Regions from separate parts of the Homo sapiens genome. Here region 2 is linked to region 1. Evidence: fine-mapped expression QTL. Tissue or cell type: skeletal muscle. Region 1 holds a variant in brackets; the other region holds the start of a gene. All regions are shown on one strand. Distances are from middle to middle.

Evidence for each region. PIP is the estimated chance that this variant, and not a neighbour inherited with it, causes the effect.
Region 2: it holds the start of LRCH3, and the variant in region 1 is the best candidate, but not a certain one, in a credible set for the expression of LRCH3 in skeletal muscle (FUSION, PIP 0.51).

What each region holds. Positions count from the first base shown.
Region 1 is chr3:197,883,706-197,889,444 of GRCh38, reverse strand. It overlaps LRCH3 (leucine rich repeats and calponin homology domain containing 3), which reads right to left. Exons shown (of 21, transcript NM_001365715.1): 21 at 1,009-5,739. It overlaps DRC9 (dynein regulatory complex subunit 9), which reads left to right. Exons shown (of 12, transcript NM_032263.5): 12 at 1-368. Among named protein-coding and RNA genes, the nearest start is that of RPL35A, 64 kb to the left of the region's middle. The variant C/T (reference allele first, on the strand shown) is at 2,375.
Region 2 is chr3:197,788,520-197,794,258 of GRCh38, reverse strand. LRCH3 (leucine rich repeats and calponin homology domain containing 3) reads right to left here and starts at 3,005. Exons shown (of 21, transcript NM_001365715.1): 1 at 2,719-3,005. The coding sequence starts at 2,980. RefSeq lists enhancers at 98-177, 2,818-3,017, 2,631-3,345 and a silencer at 2,508-2,777.

The DNA of each region.
Region 1 (5,739 bases):
TTTCACTTTGCCTGTTAATTTCACTCTGCCTGTTAGGTGGGTTTTCAAACCCTGATTTAGGATTACACCATTGACTTAGGGCTTCCTCATACCTTGCTGGGAAGAAGTTTCTAGTAGTCCTGTGAAGATTCATTCTTCTTGCTCTTTCTCAGCAGAACAAAGGAGTTCACTGGCTTAGCTACAGTGACGCATTGAAACTTGAGTAATTCCTGTAATGTCAGATTTTGATTTTACCCAATTTGTCTGTAGTGAAAAAACTCTTATGAGCAAAAGTATTCAGTAGGAATTACAATATGATGTTATTAGCTGTCCAGCATAATATATACACAGCAAAGTTTTAATAAATGTTGGTTCCTGCCTGCCTTTTAGATTTATCGTCACTTTGGTGTTTTTATTCAGGTGAAAATGGCATGGAATACATATCCAGTTGTAAGCTGCTTCAGCAACTTTTCTAGGAAACAGGGATACAAATTATAAATACAAGCTAGAAATAGGATGTTAGGATATACAACTTTACAAACTATAAAGATGGGGACACAGGTTCTCTGGAAGGCTAGTTTGGAGATATTTTTGACAAGTGAAACACTAGAGCCACCAATCCCCACTTTATGGAGTGTTAAGATGAAAAGAAATCAGGTGTGTGAAAATATCTAACTTGTGCCTGGCAAATAGGAAAGCTGTCACTCTCCCTCTTCTCCTAGAAAAAAAATGCACCCACCAGATCATGCTTGCCTTGATGAGTCAAAACAATGCCTTGGGATGCTAAAGGTTTCCAAGAGCAAAGTTGTCCTAATGTGTCACATACATTTCATGAATTAAGCCTTCTATCTAACTCCAAATAAAGCTCAGTCTTGATATCTGTACTTCCTTAAAAAATGAATTTGATCTCAAAAGTTTGTCCCGAAGCCCCCATTTCCACTGACATTCCCTCTGGAAATGAGATGCTCTTTCCTTGATTCACCTTTGCCAAGGGAACCACACCTCAGGTATGAACACGCTCCAATCAGCTTTTATTACACGCCACTGAAGTGTTGGCTTTTATTTGAATGTCAATGTGTAAAGTGGCGTACAGGCAATTTAAAATAACATACATGATACTGACATATTTATACTTAGAACTTATGCAATATATTTACAGACAAAAATACAGGACAATGTTTTACAAAATCTTTCACTAATTACATGTTTACAACATTTTCAGAAATAAAACGAAATTTGCTGTAAACCATCTCAACTGCACTGTGTATATAGAAAGGCTTCTAAATATCCATGTTTTCATTTCTATAACCATTTAAGCGCTTAGTTTTTACGAATTCATCAAACTCATTCGCATAGTCACACATCATTAGTCACTGCTGAGCTGTAGAAAGTAAGAGAAATCGCAAACTCCTTGATTAGCTGTATTTTAAAAAGCTCTTCAGAAAAGTGATCTACTACTATGCTCTGTGTTCTAGCAGAATACAAAGGCCCCTCTTTCCATGGGTCGTTTCCAGACCTGGCTATTACAAGAGAACACTGGAGTGCTAAACACAGATTATGAGTCTGAAATACTGGGAAACTGCTGACAGAAAATCTCTGTACGTGGCAAGGGCTCTGCTGGGGGTGGCTCTCAACCCGACACTGTCAGTGATGGGAAGGGCTCTGCTAGGGGGGGCTCTCAGCCCCAGACACTGTCAGTGATGGGAAGGGCTCTGCTGGGGGGCTCTCAGCCCCAGACACTGTCAGTGATGGGAAGGGCTCTGCTGGGGGGCTCTCAGCCCCCAACACTGTCAGTGATGGGAAGGGCTCTGCTAGGGGGGGCTCTCAGCCCCAGACACTGTCAGTGATGGGAAGGGCTCTGCTAGGGGGGCTCTCAGCCCCCAACACTGTCAGTGATGGGAAGGGCTCTGCTGGGGGGCTCTCAGCCGCCAACACTGTTCAGTGATGGGAAGGGCTCTGCTGGGGGGCTCTCAGCCCCCAACACTGTCAGTGATGGGAAGGGCTCTGCTGGGGGGCTCTCAGCCGCCAACACTGTTCAGTGATGGGAAGGGCTCTGCTGGGGGAGCTCTCAGCTGCCGACACACTGTCAGTGATGGGAAGGGCTCTGCTGGGGGGCTCTCAACCCCCAACACTGTCAGTGATGGGAAGGGCTCTGCTTCAGGTCAGGGGAGCTGTGACAAGGTCATCTTCATCTTACACTGGAGTCAAGCAAAGCTAAATGTTAAACCGAATTGTGCTTTCCAATTTAAAAAAAAAAAGGTACATACAAAATACTGAATACAAAAATTCTCCCAACAAAAGCATCATGATTTGTTTTTGCATCTTGACATAAAAAAGAAATTCATACCTTCCTACCTCTGCAGAGGGTTTGAAAAAAGAGAAAAAAAATTCAAAG[C/T]ATTTGATATTTTTCCTTCAATTATCAGCCAAAACTGCACATGGTTTTTCCTAACAATTCAAATACAAATCTGATTTAGTTTGATAAAAATACATTAATAAGGTTTCATAATATGTGCAAAATTTGAAATAAGTTGAAATTTCCATTTATCCCTATGGGAAAATTAGTTGCAAATGTTGCAAGTATTGCATTATGTAATGTCTTCTAGAATTATTCCTTGCATAGTATATTTTTGGTTTGGTGGGTTTTTTTTTTTTTTTTTTTTTGAGACAGAGTCTCGCTCTGTTGCCCAGGCTGGAGTGCAGTGGCACAATCTCAGCCCACTGCAACCTTCGGCTTCCAGGTTGAAGCGATTCTTGTGCCTCAGCCACCCAAGTAGCTGGGATTACAGGTGCCCACCACCACGCCCAGCTAATTTTTGTATTTTTAGTAGAGACAAGGTTTCACCATGTTGGCCAGGCTGGCTTGCGTATGTTAAAAACAATCCTGTCCTTTGCTGAATTTCATTTCTGGTGGCATATAATTTGGAGACTGTACTGAGGCTTAATGTTGACAAACACAGTTTAAAAATGCACATGGCTAAATTCTAAACAAGTTATATAAGGGTATATAAGAGTTGGTGGGTCTGTTGGGAACTGTAAATATAATGGGGTCTTACATAAAGACATTTTACTTTTGTTCTATAAGATTGGGCATTGAAGTTAGATGTTGTACAATTTATTTTTAGAGATGGGGTCTCACTCTGTTGCCCAGGCTGGAGTGCAGTGGTGCAGCCATGGCTCACTGTAGCCTCAACCTCCCAGGCTCAAGTGATCCTCCCACCCCAGCCTCCTGAGTAGCTGGGAGTACAGGCAGGTGCCACCACACCTGGTTTTTTTTTTTTTTTTTTAATTTTTGGGAGACAGGGTCTTGCTATGTTGCCCAGGCTGCTCTCAAACTCCTGGGCTCAAGTGATCCTCTTGCCTCGGCCTCCCAAAGTGCTGGGATTATAGGCATGAGCCACCATGCCCAGCCTGTTATACAATTTTAAACCTGGTCAAGTGGTAATGTTCTGATGAATTTGTTTCTCTGCAAGAACAAGGAAGAAAACATTACTTTGACCAGGTATTCAACATGATTTGATCCAAAGCTACTTTTAGATGCTACATTTACCTGATAAAAAGAGGGATAACATTATGCCCAAATGGATGCATTGTAAAGAAAATCCAGAACAGTTAACAACTACAGAAACAAAAGAGATATCTTCCGCTTACTTTATTTACTTGTTTTACAAAGGCAGTGAACACCAAAGGATATCACCAACAACTAAAAGGAGTTCAAAATGCAGGGGAAGGAAAACTAGCTGAAACTTGAGTAAAGGCTCCTGTGCGGTGTGAGCCCTTGGGCCCTTTTCCTCCACCCATCATTGAGTATATAAAGGCGCTTGTGGTGGAGCGAGATGGGGCGCGTTTTCTTTTTTTGAGATGGAATTTCGCTTTTGTTGCCCAGGCTGGGGTGCAATGGCACGATCTTGGCTCACCACAACCTCCGCCTCCTGGGTTCAAGCAATTCTCCTGCCTCAGCCTCCCGAGTAGCTGGGATTACAGGCATGCACCACCACGCCCAGCTAATTTTGTATTTTTAGTAGAGACGGGGTTTCTCCATGTTGGTCAGGCTGGTCTCAAACTCCCAACTTCAGGTGATCTGCCCGCCTCAGCCTCCCAAAGTGCTGAGATTACAGGTGTGAGCCACCACACCCAGCTAGGAAGATGCTGTAAGTGCTTAAATTCAGCCACAGAAACTGGCAGTTACCTGAAAGAAATACAAGAAACTAGGCTTTTCCGAGCTAGAAGTGTATGTGCTGTAACTGCAATGTGTCTGCAGGCCCAGATGTCTGAGGAGCAGCAGGAGGGCGGGGAGGGAGGCTCAGTGAGACCAAGTGCGCTATCAGCTTCAGAATTTGGAAACTCTGTATAGAGAGAGGGCTTGTTGTTGATAATGTCTAGATAACGGGGTTTGGAACCTGTGTATAGAGGGCTTGTTGTTTATTATAATGTCCAGATAACAGGATGACATAGAACTATCTTCTATGATGGTATGACTGCAGTTGAAGGGAGGCCTAGAATACTGACCTTAAATACAACTCTATCTGTTTCACTGTTTTACTATGCAAAATCTGGGCCAGGCCCGATGGCTCACTCCAGTAATCCCAGCACTTTGGGAGGCTGAGGCGGGAGGATCAGTTGAGCCCAGGAGTTTCAGACCAGCCTGGGCAATACGGCAAGACCCCAACTCTTAAAAAAAAGAAGACTATGCAAAACCTAGGCCTTCTATATTATTTTTGTTTTGCCTTTGACAGAACAGTCCAACTCCTCATAATATAGCTTTTGATTTTAAATGTGGGTGAAAAATGCAGGGGGCCATTACCCTCCCCCGCAAACATACAAATATCTAGCTTTGAACAGTGGTTCCACTACATGAAAAACACGTGCAATGGGCCGGGCGCCGGGCGCAGTGGCTCACGCCTGTAATCCCAGCACCCTCAGAGGCCGGGCACAGTGGCTCACGCCTGTAATCCCAGCACTCTCGGAGGCCGGGCGCGGGGGCTCACGCCTGTCATCCCAGCACTCTGGGAGGCCGGGCACAGTGGCTCACGCCTGTAATCCCAGCATTTTGGGAGGCCGAGGCAGGTGGATCACTTGAAGTCAGGAGTTTGAGACCAGCCTGGCCAACATGACAAAATCCCATCTCTACTAAAAATACAAGAAAATTAGCCAGGCATGGTGGCGGGCACCTGTTGTCCCAGCTACTCGGGAGGCTGAGGCAGGAGAATCGCTTGAGCCCGGGAGGCGGAGGTTGCAGTGAGCTGAGATTATGCCACTGCACTCTAGCCTGGGCGACTGAGCAGAACTCCTTCTCCAACAAAAACAAAAACATGTGCAATGGTTGTTGAAAATGCAGATTCCTAGGCCTTACCCCAGCTCTACTGAATGTGAATCTGTATTTTAACAAATACTCCAGGAGAGTCTAATGAACAACCAAGTTTAGAAACCAGCAGACCAGTTGTCTTGAGACCAGGTAAAAACAATGGCACAGCATGCTTGTGCCTAACACAGAAGATGTGCTTTCTGGCACGTGAAACACGCCTGCTCTCCAGGAAAACACAGCCAAGTTAGGTGCTGGGTTTTCAGTAAGAGAAGTTTCATCTGAGAAAACCAATGGTGTCTTCGTAAAAAAATTCAATGGAAATGGAAATAACCTCCCCTAAAATGGAGAAATGAAGCAAAATATTCCTGTTAGGAATCATGGGAACGGTCCCTTCTGAGAACACACAAGAGCTTTGTTTAAGCAGACAGCTGGCAGCAGCAATCACGGTGTCCTGTTCC
Region 2 (5,739 bases), 95 kb after region 1:
GTTGCATGGTACAGTGGAAAGAACAGAGTTAGATGAACCTGGGCCAAAATCCTACCACTGATACTACATAGTGGTGATAGCTATAACCTGGGCCAAAATCCTACCAGTGATACTATATAGTGGTGATAGCTATAACCTGGGCCAAAATCCTACCAGTGATACTATATAGTGGTGATAGCCATATGACTTTCTCTAGGTGATCCCTCACATGTAAAGTGGGGATAGTATTTAATCCACAAATTATTGTGTGCATTTAACAAGGCAGTATATTTCAAAATATCTAACACGGTGAATTACAAATAGTGAACACTCAATAAATGATGTCATTGGCATTAAATTATCTGTTTAAAACAGAGACTGGGTAACGAGCAAGGTCTGCCAAAGATTTTTTTTTATATTTCATAAGTGATATTACTACATGTTAGAAATGAATCTAGTCTAATAGCTTATAAAATACCTTGTAATCTTTTTATTTTCTTTTTACACGTTTTGACCAGATGAAAAATCAACCAACAAAAAATGTGGTTTCTATACAAAACTATTAAAGTGTAGGCAACACCATACTTAAAAACTCAGAGCACAGTAAGGAAAAACCTCTTTGGTATTACTTATTATTCTTCATAAATGCACTTGGATTTTCTTAGTCAATAAAATATTTAAGGACTCAACACGGTGCTCCTAGACCTACTGAAAAGCAGGTGAGAAAATGAGCTAGACAGACTCCTGTAATCAACTTGTTCTTTAGCTTCAGGCTTGATGTAGTAACAATGAAATGACTCACACCAATATGAAATCACTATACCATATAGCCATCTCCTAAACAGAAGCAGGAAATCTGAGGTGTGAATGATAATTTTACATGCCGTCTACCAGAACACACACAAAAGGAAAGTGGCTGCTCATATTTACCTTAGCAAGAAACTTTAAATCACTAAAAAATATTCAGTTCAACTGTTTCCAAAAAGAGATTAAATAAGCAGGCATTTAATTTCTTCTATTTTAAACTACAGCAAAAGTTTCTTTGGAAAGAATCGCTTCTTTAGTTTAACAGTTCTGTTTATTTTTCCAAAATGAGTGAATCATATGTAATACTTATAAATTTTTAATGACTGCAAAGCATAGAAAATGTGCTCAATCTAAGATTTTAAAATAAAATAAGACACCAAGTACTGCCAGCCGCAGTGGCTCACGCCTGTAATCTCAACCTTTTGTAAGGCCGAGGTCGGCGGATAGCTTGAGCCCAGGAGTTGGAGACCAGCCTGGGCAACATAGCAAAACCCCGTCTCTACAAAAAAATACAAAATATTGGCCGGACGCGGTGGCTCACGCCTGTAATCCCAGCACTTTGGGAGGCCGAGGCGGGCGAATCACCTGAGGTCAGGAGTTCGAGACCTGCCTGGCCAACATGGTGAAATCCCGTCTCTAATAAAAATCCAAAAATTAGCCGGGTGTGGTGGCGGGCGCCTGTAGTCCCAGCTACTCGGGAGGCTGAGGTGGGAGGATCACCTGAGCCTGGGAGGCAGAGGTTGCAATGAGCAGAGATTGTGTCATTCCACTCCAGCCTGGGAGACAAGAGCGAGATACCGTCTCGAAAAAATATATATATATTTTATATATAATATTTATATGTATATTATATATATATGTATATTTTATATATATATATATATATATATATATAAAATTAGCTGGGCGTGGTGGCGGCTGCCTGTAGTCCCAGCTACTCAGGAGGCTGAGGTGGGAGGATCACCTGAGCCCGGGAGGTCGAGGCTGCAGTGAGCAGTGATGACGGCACTGCAAACATGATGATGAACAACTCGGGCACCAGACACTGTTCGCCACAACTAAGAAAGCCAAATAATACCTACTTTCTTATTCTCTTTCCTGTGTTCGAAAACATACATAACACGAAGTAATGCTTTAAAAAGGAATAGCAAGTACAAATATGTTAGACTATCTTTTCTAAGTAGTTTGCTTCAACTTTTTTTTGGAGGACATGAGGAGTGGAAGAGGAAACTAATGGGAGTCGGAAAGTGGGCTCTAGTTATTTTTACAAGCGTATTTATTTTGTAAGTCAACTAGATGGAGGCGAAGAAAGACGTTCCAGCGTTCGGGTTCACTTCACACACACCCCAGCACTTCTTTGGGGTTCACTTTAAACACACACACACCCCAACACTTCTCTCGGGTTCACTTTAAACACACACACACCCCAACACTTCTTTCGGGTCCACTTTAAACACACGCTCCCCAACACTTCTTTCGAAAAAACTCCAGGGCTGAGACCGACCCTTCCTGACAATGCAGCTCGTCCAGACACCCCTGCTACTCTGATCTGTGAAGAGCTCGCGCTAACGTTCCCGTCTTAGCAGGTCCATTCGGCACCCCAAATCCGAAAGGGCCTGCAGAAACCGGGGCGGGGCAAGGGTCTACCTCCGCCGTGGCAGAAACTGATTTTCCTCAGAAAGCCTAAAAAATCATCCATCAATCACTCCGGCCCCCTTCCCCGAGAGATGCCGCCGCCCGCCGCCTCTCCCCAGGCTCTGGGTCTGGCGCAGGCCCGGAGGGCTGGCGCCGTCGGCTTCTCCCCGTTACCCGGGTCCGGACCCGGCGCCTACGGGACGAGCTGCTGTAACTCCCCCGCATCCGCCTCCCCCGGCCGGGGCGGCTCCCGGCGCCGGGTCTCCGACGGGCAGAGACGCCCCCCGCCCCGCTCACCCGCCCGGGTGGTGTCCGTCAGGTCGTGGTTGGCCGCTCCCCGGGGAAACTCCCTCAGTTTCCGGCCGCTCAGGCTCAGCACCCCAGTGACCGCCGCCTCCTCCAGGGCTCGATCGAGAGAGCGGCTCCACGAGCCCGGGCCAAAACCAGGGCCTGCCCCGGAGCTTGGGCCGCAGTGAACACCAGGGAGGTTACCTCCCGACGCTACCGTGCCAGAGTACTCGGCAGCCGCTGCCACAGCGACCAAGCCCGCGGCCGCCATTTCCCAGCCGACAACACTCGGGCCCGCCAGCTCAGCGCATGCGCGGCCGGACCGCTGGGTGGGCGGAGAAAGGGGCTCACGGACCGACCCCGGACGGTTCCCGTGATGGGCAGCACCGTGGTGCCCCCCGGCGCAGCCAGGCGCTTGCCCCCGCCCACATGATGCGCTTTTCAAGGGAAGTTAAAACGGACCTCACAAATCCAGAGCAGCCCCCTACTCTAACCTCCCAGGGGCATTTCTAAAATGCCTCTACAAAAACATCTTTCAGGCAACGCTCCGCATCAAAACTTCTCCGCCTTGCTCCCTCAGTAGTGGAGGAGTCGACTAAGCATTAAATTAAGAATTTTTTTTTTTTGAGACAGAGTCTCGCTCTGTCGCCCAGGCTGGAGTGCAGTGGCGCGATCTCGGCTCACTGCAACCTCTGCTTCCTGGGTTCAAGCTATTCTCCTGCCTCAGGCTCCCGAGTAGCTGGGACTACAGGCACGCACCACCACACCCGGTTAATTTTTGTATTTTTAGTAGAGACGGGGTTTCACCATGTTGGCCAGGATGGTCTCGATCTCCTGACCTCAAGTGATCCGCCCGCCTCTGCCTCCCAAAGTGCTGGGATTACAGGCGTGACCTACCGCGCCCGGCAAGGAATCTTTCTTAACACTGCTGCTGCAGAAACTTGGATGGTGAGAGGAGCGGACCCTCTGAGATACGACCTAAACCGTTTCCCAACTTCATTGTATTACCAGATGATCTAAATCAAGGTTTGGTGGACTTACTATGGTTGCTGGAGAGAAAACAAACAAACAAACGTGCTAATTGGGCTCAAAATTCTCATTAAAAACGTATTATTTTATATCATCCATCCCTTTTATAAAATAGCTTTTCTTAATGAAAATACAACAAATATCTTCAATAGTACTTGTACTTTTGGCAAGATTTTATTGTTGGATAAAGCAAGATTATAGTAGTATTAAAATCTAAAATGTTGGTCTGGAACCAAAATTGAGGAACAGAAAATGATCTCACTGTAATCTAAATGTGGGAATTAAAGGTAGAACCGAAGAGATGCTCTAAATTGAAACCACTCAAGAAATGAAAGAGTGGAAAATACTTCATTTAAAACCAATTAGACCTCACTTATATTGCAGCCAGTCTCTAGCATATTCTTCAGTCTGTTTTACTGAAGAAGCCATTTCTGCTATATGATGTAAATTTTACCAACAATTAATCAACTAGTTTTACTATGGGAAATAGAAGAGGCTGTCAGGTACAATCCTTTCCTAGAGGATCACAATCTAATTATGGAACCCAGACAGGCCCACAAAAAAGGGCTAAGAGTGATGGGGCTTACTTATGAGTCCAGAGAAAAGAAAGCTATATCATGGATAAATTCGGTTTTGAATTAAACCTGAAGGATTATAAAGTAGGACAAACTGGAAGGTGAGACTAGAAGATGGATCAGCATGAACACATCCAGATACGACTTAAAGTGGTAACATGTGGAGGATACGAAGGCCACAGATCAGAAAGTTCGTGTCAGAGAGCAAAAGAAAAATAAGGATGGAGAGATCCTCTCATTCAAGCCCCAACTCTTCAATGACACCTCAATTGGCATGAATTGCTAAATGCTAGAAGGTATAAAAATGTTTAATCCCAGTGCCAAAGTTGATTAGTAACAGCTGCCCAGAGAGCTGTTCTATAAACTCTCAATACATTCTAGTTACTTCAGCAACAAGTTCCATGATACATAACCATACATATGTTATGAGCTCATACATGTTATGAGCGTGGGTCACAATGGCAGGTGACGTATTTGTCATCCCCAGCAAATAACATTTATCCAATGCATATATAGCTTTTTGTTATCCTGGGCTTCCTAAAACTGTTATTCTTCGAAAGATATTAAGCTATTTAAGGGCAGTTTTTTTACTTTTTAGGGAGATTTCAACTACAATGACTGATTATCTATTCATATACTCCACACTAATGCTACAATGCTGTAGAATTAGTTGCCAGATGTACCTTTTCAAATGCACCATTGTCATCTGATTGCTTATTACCTTCCACATCTACACTAAATTCTGTCAAGTTCTCTGTAATAGGCCTCATTCCTATCTATATGTATGAATACATCCCATTGTAATAGCAACATACTATGCTAGCCCTGAACTGACCAAGCTTATAGATTGATGCTTGAATATTCAACAAGATTTTAAGGTCCTTAATATATTAAACTCTATGCTATCATAGGACTGAGTATATTTTTAGGAGTTAAAAAATTAGTCAACCCTTGCTTGTGCCTGTAATCCCAGCTACTTGGGAGGGTAAGGTGGGAGGATTGCTTGAGGCCAGGAGTTCGAGACCAGCCTGAGCAACATAGTGAGGGCACCCCACCTCCCACCCTCTGGTCTCTAAAATTTTTTAAAATAATTAGCTAGGTGTGGTGGTGCCTGACTGTAGTCCCAGCTACTTGGGATGGTGAGGTAGGTTTGCTTGATGCCAGGAGTTGAGGCTGCAGCAAGCTATGATTGTGCCACTGCACTCTAGCCTAGGAGAGAATGACATCCCATCTCTAAAAATGAAAAATAATTTTAAAAAATAATAAAAATGAGTGGAAAGCAGTAGAAACCAAAATAGATTATGTACACACACGAGAGGTTATGAGGAAAGGAAAAAGAATTACAATTTTTGGGCTGGGTGTGGTGGCTCACACCTGTAATCCTAGCACTTTGGGAGTCCGAGGTGGGCGGATCACCTGAGGTCGG